Homo sapiens: one gene and its partners. The protein of the gene in region 1 purifies or fractionates together with the protein of each later gene. This does not show direct contact. Each region holds a gene or a part of one and is shown in the gene's direction. Other genes may lie near its edges.

Region 1 (3,500 bases):
TAGATATAAAGGCTACAATCCCTAGACTAAGAAGTAGGTCTCCAGTTGAAGTAGGGAGTCTCAGTCAATGTAGGCAGAGTACAAGACCCTACAGCCTGCTCTCTCACCTGCCATCGTACAGACCAGCTTTTAGGGGAGCCAAGTTGGGATACTCAATCCCAACTTTTTTCCTTCTCTTCCATCTCACATACAGGAAACCTTACGAGAGAGGATTAGGGGCCTGAAAAAGCTGACAAGACGGCAAATATGGGAAGTGGAGCCAGTGCTGAGGACAAAGAACTGGCCAAGAGGTCCAAGGAGCTAGAAAAGAAGCTGCAGGAGGATGCTGATAAGGAAGCCAAGACTGTCAAGCTGCTACTGCTGGGTGAGTGAGATGGGAAGATGAGCCAGAGAAGGCAGGGGTCCTTCCTACTTTCCTGAAGGGTTGGTGGGTTCTACCTCACCCCATGGGAAGGAAGGGTGGCAGGTCATTTTTCCTCTCCTCTACACAGTCTGGCTAGGGGATCAGGAGATCTAGAGCTGAGTTAATATGGGGCCTAAACAGCCACCCCAAGGGGATCCAGAATGCCAAGGCTATTCCAGAGTTTTTCTACTCTTGAGCGAGGAATAGTGCAAGGGCCACCATGAACCCACCCATTTCCAAATCTAACCAAACCTAACACATCCTTTTGGCTTCAAGGACCCTGGACTTGCAGACTGTACCCAATCTGCAGAGAACTCTAAGCCAAGAAATCAGAAGAGAACAGGACCTTCCCTCACCAACAGGCTCACAAGTCCCACCATACAGTCAGTGCCAACAGTACCAGAGATAGTCCCACTGGTTTTTGCCAAGTATAGTGGTTCCTTCTTGCTTTCAGTAAAAACTTTGGAAGTAGGGGGCTCTGAGGAAGGAGGAATGGTGTCTTTATGTACAGCAGTCCCTTCCTGGCTCTCTATTCAATAGCTGCCTGCAAAGCTCCTGCCAGATGGAAGGTTCATCAACTTGATGAGCTCCTAAGCAGATCACTGGTCTGTGCTGAGAAAATAAAAGCACCTCAATTTGTCAGGGAAATTGATCACAGCTGTAAATAAAACCAAGACAAGAACATTTGAGACACGTGGCTTAGGAAAACAAACCACTGGTACCACAGAAGTAGGGTAGCTGGAGCAGGTAGGGTCTACGTAGCAGAAGATTAGATGCCTGAGCTGGGTTTCCAAGCCCCCATAAGGGATCTGGGAGCTGACGCACTAGGCTAAGGCACCTTCTTTTCCCCCAGCTGATCTGTGGCACAGTCGTAAGGACACACTAAAGGAGCATATCTTTGTAAGCTGGACCAGACTCTAAGGAGCCCAGGAGGTTACGCAGGGGGAAACAGAGATGGTGGGGCCACTGAGAGATCTTTTAAGCCTAAGCAGATTTCTTCTACATTCAGGATAAGCTGCTTAGAGGGAACAAGCACAAGCGAAATAGGAGGAGTTCGAGGCATTAGGGTAGTATAAACTCAGTACTAGAAGGTATGAGTTTTTGATGGAGAGAGCAGAGTGTGAATGAGGACATTAGGACACATTAGTCAATAAAGGGAACCCACTTAGCCCCATCCAAGACCAGGTTGAGCAACATGGTGAAAACCTGCCTCTACGGAGGGGCGGGGGGAAATGGCCGGATGCAGTGGCGCACGCCTGTAATCCCAGCGCTTTGGGAGGCCAAGATGGGTGGATCTACCTGAGGTCAGGAGTTTGAGACCAGCCTGGCCAACATAGTGAAACCCCATTTCTACTAAAAATACAAAAATTAGTCAGGCATGGTGGCATGCGCCTGTAGAGTCCCAGCTACTCAGGAGGCTGAGGCAGAAGAATTGCTTAAAACCCAGGAGGCAGAGGTTGCAGTGAGCCAAGATAGCACCACTGCACTCCAGCCTGGGAGACAGAGCAAGACTGTCTCAAAAAAAAAAAAAAAAATGTAGTCGGGCATGATGTCGCACACCTGGAATCCCAACTACTCAGGAGACTGAGGTGGGAGGATCACTTGAGCCTGGGAAGTCAAGGCTGCAGTAAGCCGAGATTGTGCCATTACACTCCAGCCTGGGCTACAAACCTGAGACCCTGTCTCAAAAAAAAAAAAGGGAACCAGCAAGGTGATGAAAATATAGTTATTTTGGTGAAATGATCCAGCTCTCTCCAATCCTACCCCAAGATCACTCTCCTGAGTCAAAAATAGGCAGAGAGGAGAAATGTTAAAGGACTCCCCCTGAATCTGTTAGTGGTTTTCAACAGGAAGATTTTGACTGCCAGTGGTCATTTGGAAATGTCTGGAGACACTTTTGGTTGTCATAACTAGGGAAGTGGGATGCTATTGGCCTCTAGTGGGTAGAGGCCAGGAATGCTGCTGAACATCCTACCATGCATGAGACAGCCCAAACTAAATAGTACTGAAGTTAAGAAACTGCTCTAAATCCAGGTTGAATGGCCTGAGCTCAAGCCTGCCAGAAATTGAGGGCAGCAGTCATCCCTATGTATTCTCCCCTAACAAGACCCCCAAGCAAGCAGTGGCTCTGACTTCTCCCAGGCCATCTCCTGGAAGGCTGAGGAGAACTGGTGGAAATCGAAAGCATAAGCATTTTTCCTTCCAGGTGCTGGGGAGTCAGGAAAGAGCACCATCGTCAAACAGATGAAGTGAGTAGAAACAAAGCCCCAAAAGACAAGATAGGGTGAAGAAGTCAGTACAGCCAGTGGAGGTATTCAAAGTGAAAGGCTCTTTAGCCTCAAGGAGCCCAGGTATAAAGGATCTGATTCCAATGCCCCTCATCTGTACCCCTTGTCCCTCACCCTCCACTTTGAGAAAGCAGTAGCAACAGAGAGATAGGATTCTTATGATCCTTTAAATACCCCCAAATTCCTAATCCCTTAGGTCTGGTTACTCAGGTCCAGCTAAAGACAGAGTGTCTGCCCCTTGCAGGATCATTCACCAGGATGGCTATTCACCAGAAGAATGCCTGGAGTTCAAGGCTATCATCTATGGAAATGTGCTGCAGTCCATCCTGGCTATCATCCGGGCCATGACCACACTGGGCATCGATTATGCTGAACCAAGCTGTGCGGTATGTGATTACTATTATGTGGTTAAGGGTGGAAGCAGAAAGGCTAGCAAGAAGAAACATACCAGAGGCCAACAAACTATATGGAAAGATGGGTAAGAAAAATAGTAACTAAAATCCCACCTGCTGGGTGGGATCTCACTGCTAGGTGTACTGTGTATACCATCTCAAGGCCCTTTACCCATCTACGCAGTAAGACCTTAAGGTAGACGGTACCTTTCTAATTAGCCTCATTTTACACATGGAAAAACTGAAGTTCAGAGAAGTTAATTAACTGCCCAAGGTCATGTAGATAAATAGCAGAGACTGCATTTGCATTGGGCTGCTTGACTACAAAGCTGAATATTTTTCATAATACACCACAATTATGCAGTCCTGGAGAAGTAAGCAACATCCACCCTTATTTTTACTGGGACAGGGTCTTCC
Region 2 (3,500 bases), on another chromosome or scaffold:
GACTTTGATTTTGGCTTCTGCATCCCCAGCAGTAGGAACACTTGTGAACATATCTATGAGTTTCCCCAGCTTTCGGAGGATGTCAGTATGTATCCCCTGACCCTTACAGCACTCTAGATTCTGAGGGCTACAAGGAACAAACCTTGAAACCCATCTGGTCCAGCGCCCTGGCATTGTCTCGTGGCAGTGCTGACATGATGCGTATCTAGTCATTTGACCTCAGGCTTCTCATTTCCTATTGCTCCTGGCTCCTGTTCTAAACTCTGACTCGGCCCGTATGGGAGCAATGAAGGGTTTGTTTGTTTTTGTTTTTGTTTTTTTCCCCTGAGACAGAGTCTTGCTCTGTCTGTTGCCCAGGCTGGAGTGCAGCAGCGCGATCTCGGCTCACTGTAACCTCTGCCTCCCAGGTTCAAGCGATTCTCCTGCCTCAGCCTCCTGAGTAGCTGGGATTACACCACACTTGGCTAGTTTTTGTATTTTCAGTAGAGACGGGATTTCACCATGTTGGTCAGGCTGGTCTCGAACACTTGACCTCATGATCCACTCTCCTCGGCCTCCCACAATGCTGGGATTACAGGTGTGAGCCACTGCCCCCGGCCCTTTTGTTTTTTTCTTTTTTTTTTGAGACGGAGTCTTGCCCTATTGCCCAGGCTGGAGTGCAGTGGCGCAGTCTTGGCTCAGTGCATCCTCCGTCTCCTGGGTTCAAGTGATTCTCCTGCCTCAGCCTCTCGAGTAGCTGGGATTATAGGCACCTGCCACCATGCCCGGCTAATTTTTTGTATTTTTTGTAGAGACAGAGTTTCACCATGTTGGTCAGGCTGGTCTCGAACTCCTGACCCTGTGATCCACCTGCCTCATCCTCCCAAAGTACTGGGGATTACAGGCGTGAGCCACTGTGCTCAGTCTGAAGGTTTTTTTTTTTTTTCTTTTTGAGACGGAGTCTTGATCTTGTCACCCAGGCTGGAGTGCAGTGGCGCAATCTCGGCTCACTGCAAGCTCTGCCTCCTGGGTTCATGCCATTCTGCCTCAGCCTCCTGAGTAGCTGAGACTACAGGTGCCCACCACCATGCCCGGCTAATTTTTTGTATTTTTAGTAGAGACGGGGTTTCACCGTGTTAGCCAGGATAGTCCCAATCTCCTGACCTCGTGATCCGCCTGCTTCGGCCTCCCAAAGTGCTGGAATTACAGGCTTGAGCCACTGCGCCCGGCCGGTCTGAAGGTTTTAATAATACAGGCCATCCTTTTAGATGCCTCCTGTGGGAAGACAGTGCCTAAGGGAGATAAAAGGAGGCCTGTGACCATCCCTGGGACGCTGATCAGATAAAGCACCTCTCCTGTGCACTGTTAGTCATGGTTTTCCATTGTGTTTTAGTCATTGGCCCTTCACTTTTTTCTTAATCAGAGCTAGATGTGAAACTGCAGGCTAAATAGAATCAAGGCCAGAGGACTTCTTTTCCATTCCCTGCAGGATAGAGAGTTGATTGGATAAAGTGTTGAGATAGATCCAGCAGGAAGGAATGGGGCTGTTGTAGATTTTGGGGCAGGAGTGAGAAGGTGGAAATACTGTTTGAGGAAGAGTGGCCTAGACCTGGGGAGGGCACCAGAGGGAGAAGGCTGCTGCCGTGTAGCCTCGGCAAGGGAAGATGGGGACCAAACGAGAGAGAAAGAACAGCCCTTGTCAGTTTCTGCAACTTTGGCCTAGCCACCTCAGGTTCGCATCCTTTGTGAATAGTTAGGGAAAATTCAAGTCATTTATGAGGGTGTGAATAGAATCCTGTGACTAGTGATGCCTGTAGTTGCCTTGCTGGCATCACTGATTGGTCCTCTCAGAATCCCAGGTCCTTAAGAATTGTCATATTCTGAAAACCAGATAACCTTTAATCGTGTGGCAGTACAGTTCCCAGGTAAAATGAGGATTGCTGAGATGTGGGGCAGGGTGTTGACGACAGCATCTGGTTCTGACTTGAACCCCTCTTCCCAAGCTGGCTAGAATATGTAGATACTTGCAAGAAAAGATGATGTATAGTGTTATAAGTTTTACCCATGAAGCCAAATCAGCCTGGAGGGCAATATTATGCATATAAACCGAGTAGTTTTGGCATTGGTGGGTTCAAAGAACTTTAAAAAATCAGTTTCACTTTTTGAGAACTGTGGTGAGCAACAGCATTTCCTCCAGGGGACTCCAAATGGCATGTAATCATTAACTCAAAACTGATCAGAGGTAGTATTATCTTTATTCTCCAGTATGGTTAAAGACTCAAAATGGCATGTAATCATTAACTCAAAACTGATCAGAGGTAGTGACTGTTAATTATCTTTACTCTCCAGTATGGTTAAAGAGGTCTGGGCAATTGCCTGAACAAACAAGACTTTACTTTAGATCCCAAGACAGGCAGACCTATTGCTGAATCATTTGCGAGTTAATACCCAGAAGGTCTCCGGAGAAGGCTCCCTGCCCTGTGTTCCTTGCACTCATTCCAATCTAGGTTTCCTTGGGTTGTCAGGGTTGTGTGTGGAGGTGGGCACAGTGAGGCTCAGATTTCTGAATTTGGAGTGGAATGTCTAGAGGTGGGCCACTGACCAGAGGCCAGGGCTGGCTTTGGTCAGCTGAGAGCACTGAGTAAATAGGTTGGTGGGGTCCATGTTGGGAAGAGGGGTGAGCACATTTCCCTGGTATCTTGGCTGAAGAATCCAGGCTGGAGATGACAGAGGAGGCCATGGTGGAGAGTTGATTGCATCCTTATGTTGAAATGGAGATCATGTTCAGCTGGGGGGCCTCTGTGGTCTCCCCAGCTGTCAAGGGCTGCCTCCCTCTGTTCTGACCTCATCGTTATTCTGGCAGAGTATACTCTGAAGCGCTGGCTTATTTTGGAGGGGATGCAAAGTTTTCTCCCACCTACCCTGTGGGGCAGACTCAAACATAATTCTTTGCTTTTTTCTTCCCCCTTTGCCTGACTTGCAGTTCGTCTAATGATTGAAAATCCTTACGAGACCCGCTCTGACAGCTTCTACTTTGTTGACAACAAGCTGATAATGCACAACAAGGCTGATTATGCCTATAATGGAGGCCAGTAAGTGCTGCAAGAGTAGATAGGGGAGGTGCTTTGCCGCGGCCACAAGATCCTGGCACACGGAGATGATCGAAGCTGCAGTTTGTCAACACACATCTGGAACCTGGCCCCAGGAAGCCAAGGCTGGGGTGGCAGTTTCCTGCGCGCCAAAGGAGCTGCCAAACAGTGCTGTGTTTTCTTCCCCAGTATTTTTTCTTCCCTTTTTTTCCTGCCCCGTAGGTTGCAGAGGTACTATAGTAAAGTAAAAGGTTAGGATAAGGGTCCTGGAATCCAGATAAAAAAGTTTATTTTCCGTAGTTCTGGCTGCCTGTTGGTTGTCTTGACGACCAGGCATAGCTGTGCCTGGTGAGAAGGCTCTGGCCAGGCCCACCAGCAGGTCAGCAGCTCTTAAGGTTCCTGGGTGCTGTGGGAAGCTGAAAGGTAGGCCTC
Region 3 (4,252 bases), on another chromosome or scaffold:
TTAAGATGGATTTTTGGAGTTCTGGAAATTCTTGTAACTTTGAATTTGCAGCGCTAGATATAACAGCGGAATTTTGCAGCTACTGTGTATCTGGCTTCTTATTAATAGTGCAATGGCAAAATGCCTCATTATGTAGAGCTCTTCCCCTTCCTAGGCATTTTAGCCTCTATTCGTTTCTCCGTGCAGGTATTCTGAAGCAGACTGTTAGCTGAATGAGAGAGAAGCAGGTGGGGTGGTAGCCAATCAGAAGGGCCAAGTTCCAGTTCTTCCACAGAACATTGGTTGTATGACCTTGCACACATCCCTAACACTTCAGCTTCATTATATTTAAGACTAGGAGGTTGGAGACCTCATAAAGGTCCTTCAAATATAAAATTATATGAAAAACATTCATAAACTCAGGTAAAAACTTACAGTTTTTGTCAGGCATTCTACTTGCAAAGGCACACCCTAAACATTTAATTTTGAAAAGTCGGTGACTATGCACAAAAAGTAGTAAAATGACACAGGAATTAATAGAAATCCATCATTATTCATTTAACGTGTAAAGAGAAAACGCTCAATGTACACTTTTTCGGTCCTGCAGATGATTAATTACAGTTCTCTAAACCTCACATTTAGCATCTCTGTGACCTCAGGCCTTTGGGATTACTTCTAAGTAAGACCAAACAGGTCGAAAGATCTGTAATTGTAATTTATTTTAGGTCAGTGGTTCGGTGGAGGCATAGGGGTCAAGGGTCCAGCACTCCCAGTATTTCTTGGAGGGTGTTCAGCAGTTTCCAGACCGGCTGACTCCAACTCTTATCTGCAGGGAAGCGTGTTACTCTTTGGAATGAAAGACAGCTCCGTATAAATGACTTGACCAAAAATGGGTGCTCATCTCAGATGCAGGGCAGGGACTATGTAACTCCATCCTCGACTCGCAGCAGGAAGTTAACTCCTCCTGAGAGCCAGGCGGTCGGAGGACCAGGCGGGGAGGTTACAGGCACCAAGACACCCAGGCTGGCTGGACCCTCCCACCCTGTAATGATGAGGGGAGATGCTCCCTGGGACAGCCCCCTTGAAGCTTCTGGCGACGGGGCTGGGATCCGCCCACCCTTACTCAGGGGCGAGCCCTGTCATACGCGTGGAAGCGGCCACCACCTTCTAGGGGGAGGGGCGTTCCCGTCGGGCGTAACCGCCCCGCCCTGGGGGGCCGCTGGGGACGCTGATCTGCAGGAGGGGGCGGGGTCGGAAAAAATCCGGTAGCTCCAGACCGGTGTCCCGTTGCCAGGCGATGGGGAGGAGGCGGGGCCGACAGGAAAGAGGAGCCGGGCTCGGCGCGAAAAGGGCACCCTCCAGAGCCGCGGCCGCGCAGCCGCCTTTCCTCCCTCTCAGGGCTGCGCGCCCAGGTCTGCGCCGCGCTCCGCCTCCAGCCGCGCGCAGACTTGCGCACGCGTCGTGAGAGCGACCGCCTCCGTCTCTCGCTGGGCTCGCTAGGGCTGCGCGTTGGGCCAGCGGGGGCGCCGCAGCTGAAGCCGCCCCGGAGCCGGTGAACCGAATTACCTCGAGGGAGGGGCGTGGGGAAGGCGGCGGGAGGAGGAGCGCACGGGCCGGCTGCCGTGCCCACCACGGCTGAGGAACATGGTTTTCGAGTCGGTGGTCGTGGACGTGTTGAACCGGTTCTTGGGGGACTATGTGGTGGACTTGGACACGTCCCAGCTCTCTCTGGGCATCTGGAAAGGTAAGGAGGCCGCCGCCGCCGCTCCCCGGCCTCTCGTGCTTCCCGGCCGTCTCGCTGCCCGAGCGGCGTCCTGCGTTCTCGGGGCTTCGAGCACCTTGCTCGCCGGGTGCAGCCACCTGCCGCCGCCCGCCTGTGGGTCAAGTTACGTAAAGCCGGGCGGCAGTTCCCTGGCCTCCGCCCTCGAGTTGTTTATATTTTGGGGGAAAGGAGAGGGTCATGAGTGCGGGATGAAAAGGTCTATATTTTCCGAGCGGAGCGGACTTGCCGTGGGCTCCGTGGGTCTGGCGTTCAAGTCCCGGCGAGGGGCCGTTCTCTACCCCTGGCCCCGCACGGTCCGGCTTTAGCCGCGCGGGGCGAGGAGGCGAGACGACGCCTTCCTGGGCTGGGTCCCATCCCTGTCCTTTGCCCCCCTGGGTTTATGACGAAGGCCCCAGAAATCCCCCGCGTGTTGCATGCTGCCTCGCACGTGAAGGCAGGGCGCTGTGACCGGGGACGCCCGCTTCCTTGCTTCCCCAGCCTCAATTCCTGGCTTCACCCGTGGTGCTTTCTGCTCTCCCCCTTCCGGCCCTAGGACCCGGACGCCGGCTCTCTCTCGCCTGGGTTCGGCGGATAACAAAAAGGAAACTCAAGTGCAAAGTAACTCAAACAGTTGCTTGTGTGGTTGCAGTTAACAGCCTGACCTAGGAATGTGTAACATTTTCAAGACTTTAGGATATGTGGGTCAGAGTGAATTGCCGAATTTTAAAGAAAAACCAGGGCGTGCGGTGCAACGTCTCAGACCTGCAAAAGACCGGGCTGAACAGGGCCCTACGCTGCCTAGGTGGTGAAGGACCGAGCTTTCCTTGTGTCCGTTTAGTGTGGTATTCTGCCTTAGTGAGAGCCTCATTTTTAGTGTTTCCATCTGTTTTTGCATTATGCGCTTGTTTATTTTAAACACCCGCTAGAAATTAGACTCCTTTGTGAAATGAATTTCCCAGGCCAAAGTGAGGGTTAATTTTGTGTGTGAAGTGTGTGTGTTTAAATATATATTTAAAGTAATTTATTCTTGTCTGTGCACACACTTCCAGTCTTCTTCTAAAATACTTACCTTGACTCTTCTCGTTTATGAGATAATGTAAACAGGTAGTTTAGTTTGATTTTAAAGAATGTTACTACCGTGGGGACCTAGTATCATGATGGAGAGTGAGTGGACTACAAAAGCTAGGGATATAGTGATAGCTGCTCAGCCTGTTTGATTAGTACAAGAAACTTGCAGTCTGTTTATGCTGCTTCTTAGTTGCAAAGTGAAAATAAAATTTGTCTCCCATGTACCTCAGAAGGAAGCCTTAAGAATACTTGAGGTGAACTTTGATCTGTAGTGGAGTCTTGCTTCCACATTCAGGGTGGAGGTTTGTCTAGAGTGTGATTAATCAACTTATTTATTTGTTTAAAATTTACATGCAGTAAAATTCACTCTTGTGATACAGTTCTGTCTTGACAAATGCTAAGAGGCATGTATGCACCACCACAATAATGGCACATAAAAGGTTCATCAAGCCTCCCGAATTCTCTCAGCTGCTCCTTTGCAGTTGATCTCACCCCGCCACCACGCCCGGCTAATTTTTAGTAGAGAGGGGGTTTTGCAATGTTGGCCAGGCTGGTCTCAAACTCCTGACCTCAAGTAATCCGCCTGCCTCTGCCTCCCAAAGTGCTGGGATTACAGGCGTGAGCCACTGCGCCCGCCTGACTGTAAGTATTTATCTGTTTGCTGGTTGAAGAATATTTCAGTTTTTGGAGGTTATAAATAAAGCCGTCATAAACATTCACGTACGGGTGTTTGTGTGAACATAATTGTTATTTCTCTTGGATAAATACCTAAGAGTGGTTTTAAATTGGGTTGTACGTTTTTTTTTTTTTTTTGAGATTTATTTCATATACCATAAATTTCACTCTTTTAAAATGTACAATTCAGTGTTTTTTAGTATAGTCACAAAATTGTACAACCATCACCACTCTCTCATTCCGGAATATTTCAGCACCCCAAAATTAAATCGTATGTCCATTAGGAGTGACTCCCAATTTCCTCCCTTCTCACTACTCCACCTCTGGCAACCACTAATCTTTCTGTCTTTATGGATTTGGTAATTCTGGACATTTCATTTAAATGGAATTATATGATATGTGGCCTTTTGTTTCTGGCTTCTTTAACCTAATGTATTTTCAAGGTTCCTCCATGTTGAAGGATGTATGACTATTTCATTTGCTCTTAGGGTTGAATAATATTCCATTATATTCATAGACCACAATTTATTTATCTATACTCACCAGTTGCTGGATGTTTAGATTATTCCTAAACATCCACCTTTTGGATATTATGAATAATGCCACTGAACATTCATGTACAAGTTTTTTTGTGGATGTATGTTTTAAATTCTCTTGGATATATACCTAGAAGTGGAATTGCTGGGTCATATGCTGACTTTGTGTAACCTTTTGAGGAACAGCCAAACTCTTTTTCCAGAGTGTTTGTTTTCTTATGGTTGAGTTTTG
Region 4 (3,500 bases), on another chromosome or scaffold:
GCCAGAATGGGAAGAATTTCTTAGAGAACTTGGCTGTATACTCCAGCAACAGTTCTTTTTTTTTTTTTTTTTTTTAAATCTTTGAAGATTATATAGAGTAGATAGGATAAAATGATCTATTTTTAAGTCTTGATGACACAGGATTAAGAAAAAGGCAAGTGTGATAGAGGGGATTTGGGATTATTGTAGTGTTGGGCTAACGGTTAAATAGATGCTAAGGTGTCCAGATTTATTTCTGGCTGATAAATGTATGCTGCTGCAGGTGTTTAACAATCTAAATAGCTGTGACAGGTTTATGCCAAAAGTACATTAAAGGGTAGTGAACAATGTCAGGATGCCCGTGTATACCAGACTCTTAATAGTGGGACATGTGGTATATGAACAGTACAAAGCTAAGTGATTTCTGTGCATTAAAACAGATAAATCACAGGTTGAAAAGACAAAAAGCGGCTGGGCTTGGTGGCTCACACCTGTAATCCCAGCACTTTGGGAGGCTGAGGCAGGCAGATCACCTGAGGTCAGGAGTTCGAGACCAGCCTGACCTATATGGTGAAACCCCGTCTCTACTAAGAATACAAAAATTAGCTGAGCATGGTGGCAGGTGCCTGTAATTCCAGCTACTCGAGAGGCTGAGACAGGAGAATCGCTTGAACCCGGGAGGCAGAGGTTGCAGCAAGCCAAGATCGTGCCACTGCACTCCAGCCTGGGCGACAGAGCGAGACTCCATCTCAAAAAAAAAAAAAAAGACAAAAAGCATGTGATAAGGACAGGCTGAAAGACAGCTTGTTAATTTTATACCATATCTACATTACTGAGAAATTACAGCAGCCAAAAAATTACTGTATTAATAGGTAGCATTTCACTCTCAAAACAGATAACCAAGGTGTTGTTGCATATTATAGCATCAAACATTGAAATGTAGAAGCTTGGTTGTAACCAGGTGATAGGAAGTTCAACGTATAATTATCAGAAGGATGATAATCATACATAGGAAATTTTGTACTTTAACATTTGTACTTTCGAATTAGATAGTCTATGCTGTATGTGACATTTATGTAAACAAATAATGGCATCTGTTACTTTGGAGAGTATCACCTTGGATTAGAAAAAGGTGATAAAAGCATTTACGAATTTATAAAAAAGCACTTACTAAGGTAATTTTTTATACATTTTTTAGGTCTGTTAAAATACTTATCCTCTTCTAAAATTAGACTTGTTGATCTAGGGACCATTCTCTTTCCTTAAGATAACTATGTTTCTATACTGACCTACATTCCATTAATCTGAAATATAACTATGAAGGCATCTTATTTCTAGGTGCTTAAAATCGTGACCCTATGCACTGACCTAAAATCACTATGTCTGTGCCCAAACACACAGGTAGTGAAGACCCTGTGCATATAGGGTCAGTTTATTGCATATTCATGTTAAAATAGTTCTCAAACTCCAGAATTACTAAAAAGATGTATCAGTTCATATTTGTATCAGCTGGAGTCTATGAATAATATTTCATATATGTGTACTACTAGTTTTCAAATGATACAGTATAAGAGTGATAAGAGTATGGGCCAGGCATGGTGGCTCACACCTGTAATCCCAGCATTTTGAGAGGCCGAGGTGGGTGGATCACTTGAGGTCAAGAGTTCAAGACCAGCCTGGCTAACATGGTGAAACCCTGTCTCTACTAAAAATACAAAAATTAGCCAGGTGTGGTGGCACATGCCTGTAGTCCCAGCTTCTTGGGAGGCTGAGGCAGGAGAATGGCTTGAACTCGGGAGGCAGAGGTTGCATTGAGTCAGGATTGTGACATTGCACTCCAGCCTGGGTGACAAAGCGAGACTTCATCTCAAAAAAAAAAAAAAAAGAGTATGGACTCTGAGGCCTGATTGGCTGGATTCAAATCCCAGCTCCACACACAGTAGCTGTGAGATTTTGGACAAGTTCCTGAGGTCTGTGCTATACTTTTCTTATCTATAAAATGGGGATAACTGCCTAGCTCATGAAATTATTATAGGGATTAATGCAATTTAATTAAGTGTTGGCTATCTTTATTAAATAGCTATTAGTGTTATTATGATTAATGAAATAAAAATTTTTATTGACTACAGTTAGGAATATAGAGTAGCTTTTTGTTACTGTGAGGGGAGAAGAGTTCAAATAATTGTAGGGATTCTTGTATATATTGAATATAGTTTGGGACTGTGGTAATAATGTGCACTAGGTTTTGGTCAGCAGTATTACTGATTTGCCTATAGAGACAGATTATTTAACAAAATAGATATTACATACTGTAGTGGAAAAGGCCACTGACTAGGGAGTCAGGAGACTTGGGTTCTGATCTCAGCATTACCACAAACTAACCAGCTGTGTTGCTTTGAGCAAATGACTTGTCTTTTCTGGATATTAGTGTACTCAGATTGGAATGAGGACTAGATAATCTCTGAAGCCTCTTTCAGTCTTACCATTGTCTTTTTCTGTGACATAAAGTAGAATACCTGAGTTGGAATGAGACCTTAGGTCTAATCCATTATTCCTTTATAGCATGAGAAGAAGCTATGCAAAGACATTGTGGTGAATGGCAGAACTAGTACTAGAATCTCCTCGAACAGACTATTACTCTGCATTAAATGGGGAAAGCATTATCCATTGTAGAAATGGCCAGCTAACTCATTGCCTTTTATTCTTATATGATTCTTCAGTGCTTCATGTTGCAATCCTTGAGTCAAGCTGGAGAAAAATGATTGCAAATTGTACTGGTGCTGTAATTAAAAGGGATTTGTCCTTTGCAAAACCTTAAATGATAAATGATAATGCATGAAGGCATTCTAACTAGCCAACATTAAAGAAACCATATTTCCAGCAAAGGTAAAATCTGTTAGTAAGTAGGATAGCATGAATTCAGACCTTAGCGTTTGTGCAATTTGTGTGTGATGGCAAAGTTAATGCCCTATTCCAAAGTGATGGATTTTAATCATGAAATCTGTAATAATTCAAATGTCTTAATTACTTTGGTTCTTAAATTGTCCATATATGGTTTAGACCAGAGTTGAACAAACTAGCCCATGGACCAAATCTGTTTTTGTATGCATGAGCTAAGAATTGTTTTTACATTTTTAAATGGTTAAGAGGCTGGGTGCAGTGGCTCACGCCTGTAATCCCAGCACTTTGGGAGGCTGAGGTGGGCTGATTACTTGAACCAAGGAGATCGAGACCAGCCTGGGCAACTTGGCGAAACCTCATCTCTACAAAAAAAAAAAAAAAAAAGAAAAAAGACAAAAAATTAGCCAGGCATGGCGGTGCATGCCTGTAGTCCCAACCACTTGGGAGGCTGAAGCAGGAGGATCATCTGAGCCGGCAGGTTGAGGCTGCAGTGAGATGAGATTGTACCACTGCATTCCAGCCTTGGTGATAGAGTGAGACTTTGTCTAAAAACATAAAATAAGATAAAATGGTTAAGAAATCAAAGGAAAAGAATATTTCATTACGTGTGAAATTACATG

Evidence for each region.
Region 2: the proteins of GNAT2 (region 1) and UNC119B purify together in Homo sapiens (affinity purification with mass spectrometry; 2 studies listed by BioGRID and IntAct, with this or other methods). This does not show direct contact.
Region 3: the proteins of GNAT2 (region 1) and VPS13A purify together in Homo sapiens (affinity purification with mass spectrometry, with the first as the bait; one large-scale study listed by BioGRID). This does not show direct contact.
Region 4: the proteins of GNAT2 (region 1) and OCIAD1 purify together in Homo sapiens (affinity purification with mass spectrometry; 3 studies listed by BioGRID and IntAct, with this or other methods). This does not show direct contact.

What each region holds. Positions count from the first base shown.
Region 1 is NC_000001.11:109,609,617-109,613,116, reverse strand, and holds part of GNAT2 (guanine nucleotide-binding protein G(t) subunit alpha-2), read left to right. Parts: intron 1-32; exon of another isoform or gene 33-193; 5' UTR 194-246; coding exon 247-364; intron 365-2,609; coding exon 2,610-2,652; intron 2,653-2,935; coding exon 2,936-3,077; intron 3,078-3,500. UniProt on the Homo sapiens protein: Guanine nucleotide-binding proteins (G proteins) are involved as modulators or transducers in various transmembrane signaling systems.
Region 2 is NC_000012.12:120,716,958-120,720,457, forward strand, and holds part of UNC119B (protein unc-119 homolog B), read left to right. Parts: coding exon 1-85; intron 86-2,962; coding exon 2,963-3,075; 3' UTR 3,076-3,500. UniProt on the Homo sapiens protein: Myristoyl-binding protein that acts as a cargo adapter: specifically binds the myristoyl moiety of a subset of N-terminally myristoylated proteins and is required for their localization.
Region 3 is NC_000009.12:77,176,082-77,180,333, forward strand, and holds the start of VPS13A (intermembrane lipid transfer protein VPS13A), read left to right. Parts: upstream 1-1,452; 5' UTR 1,453-1,623; coding exon 1,624-1,723; exon of another isoform or gene 1,724-1,836; intron 1,837-4,252. UniProt on the Homo sapiens protein: Mediates the transfer of lipids between membranes at organelle contact sites. Binds phospholipids. Required for the formation or stabilization of ER-mitochondria contact sites which enable transfer of lipids between the ER and mitochondria.
Region 4 is NC_000004.12:48,837,588-48,841,087, forward strand, and holds part of OCIAD1 (OCIA domain-containing protein 1), read left to right. Parts: intron 1-3,500. UniProt on the Homo sapiens protein: Maintains stem cell potency. Increases STAT3 phosphorylation and controls ERK phosphorylation. May act as a scaffold, increasing STAT3 recruitment onto endosomes. Involved in integrin-mediated cancer cell adhesion and colony formation in ovarian cancer.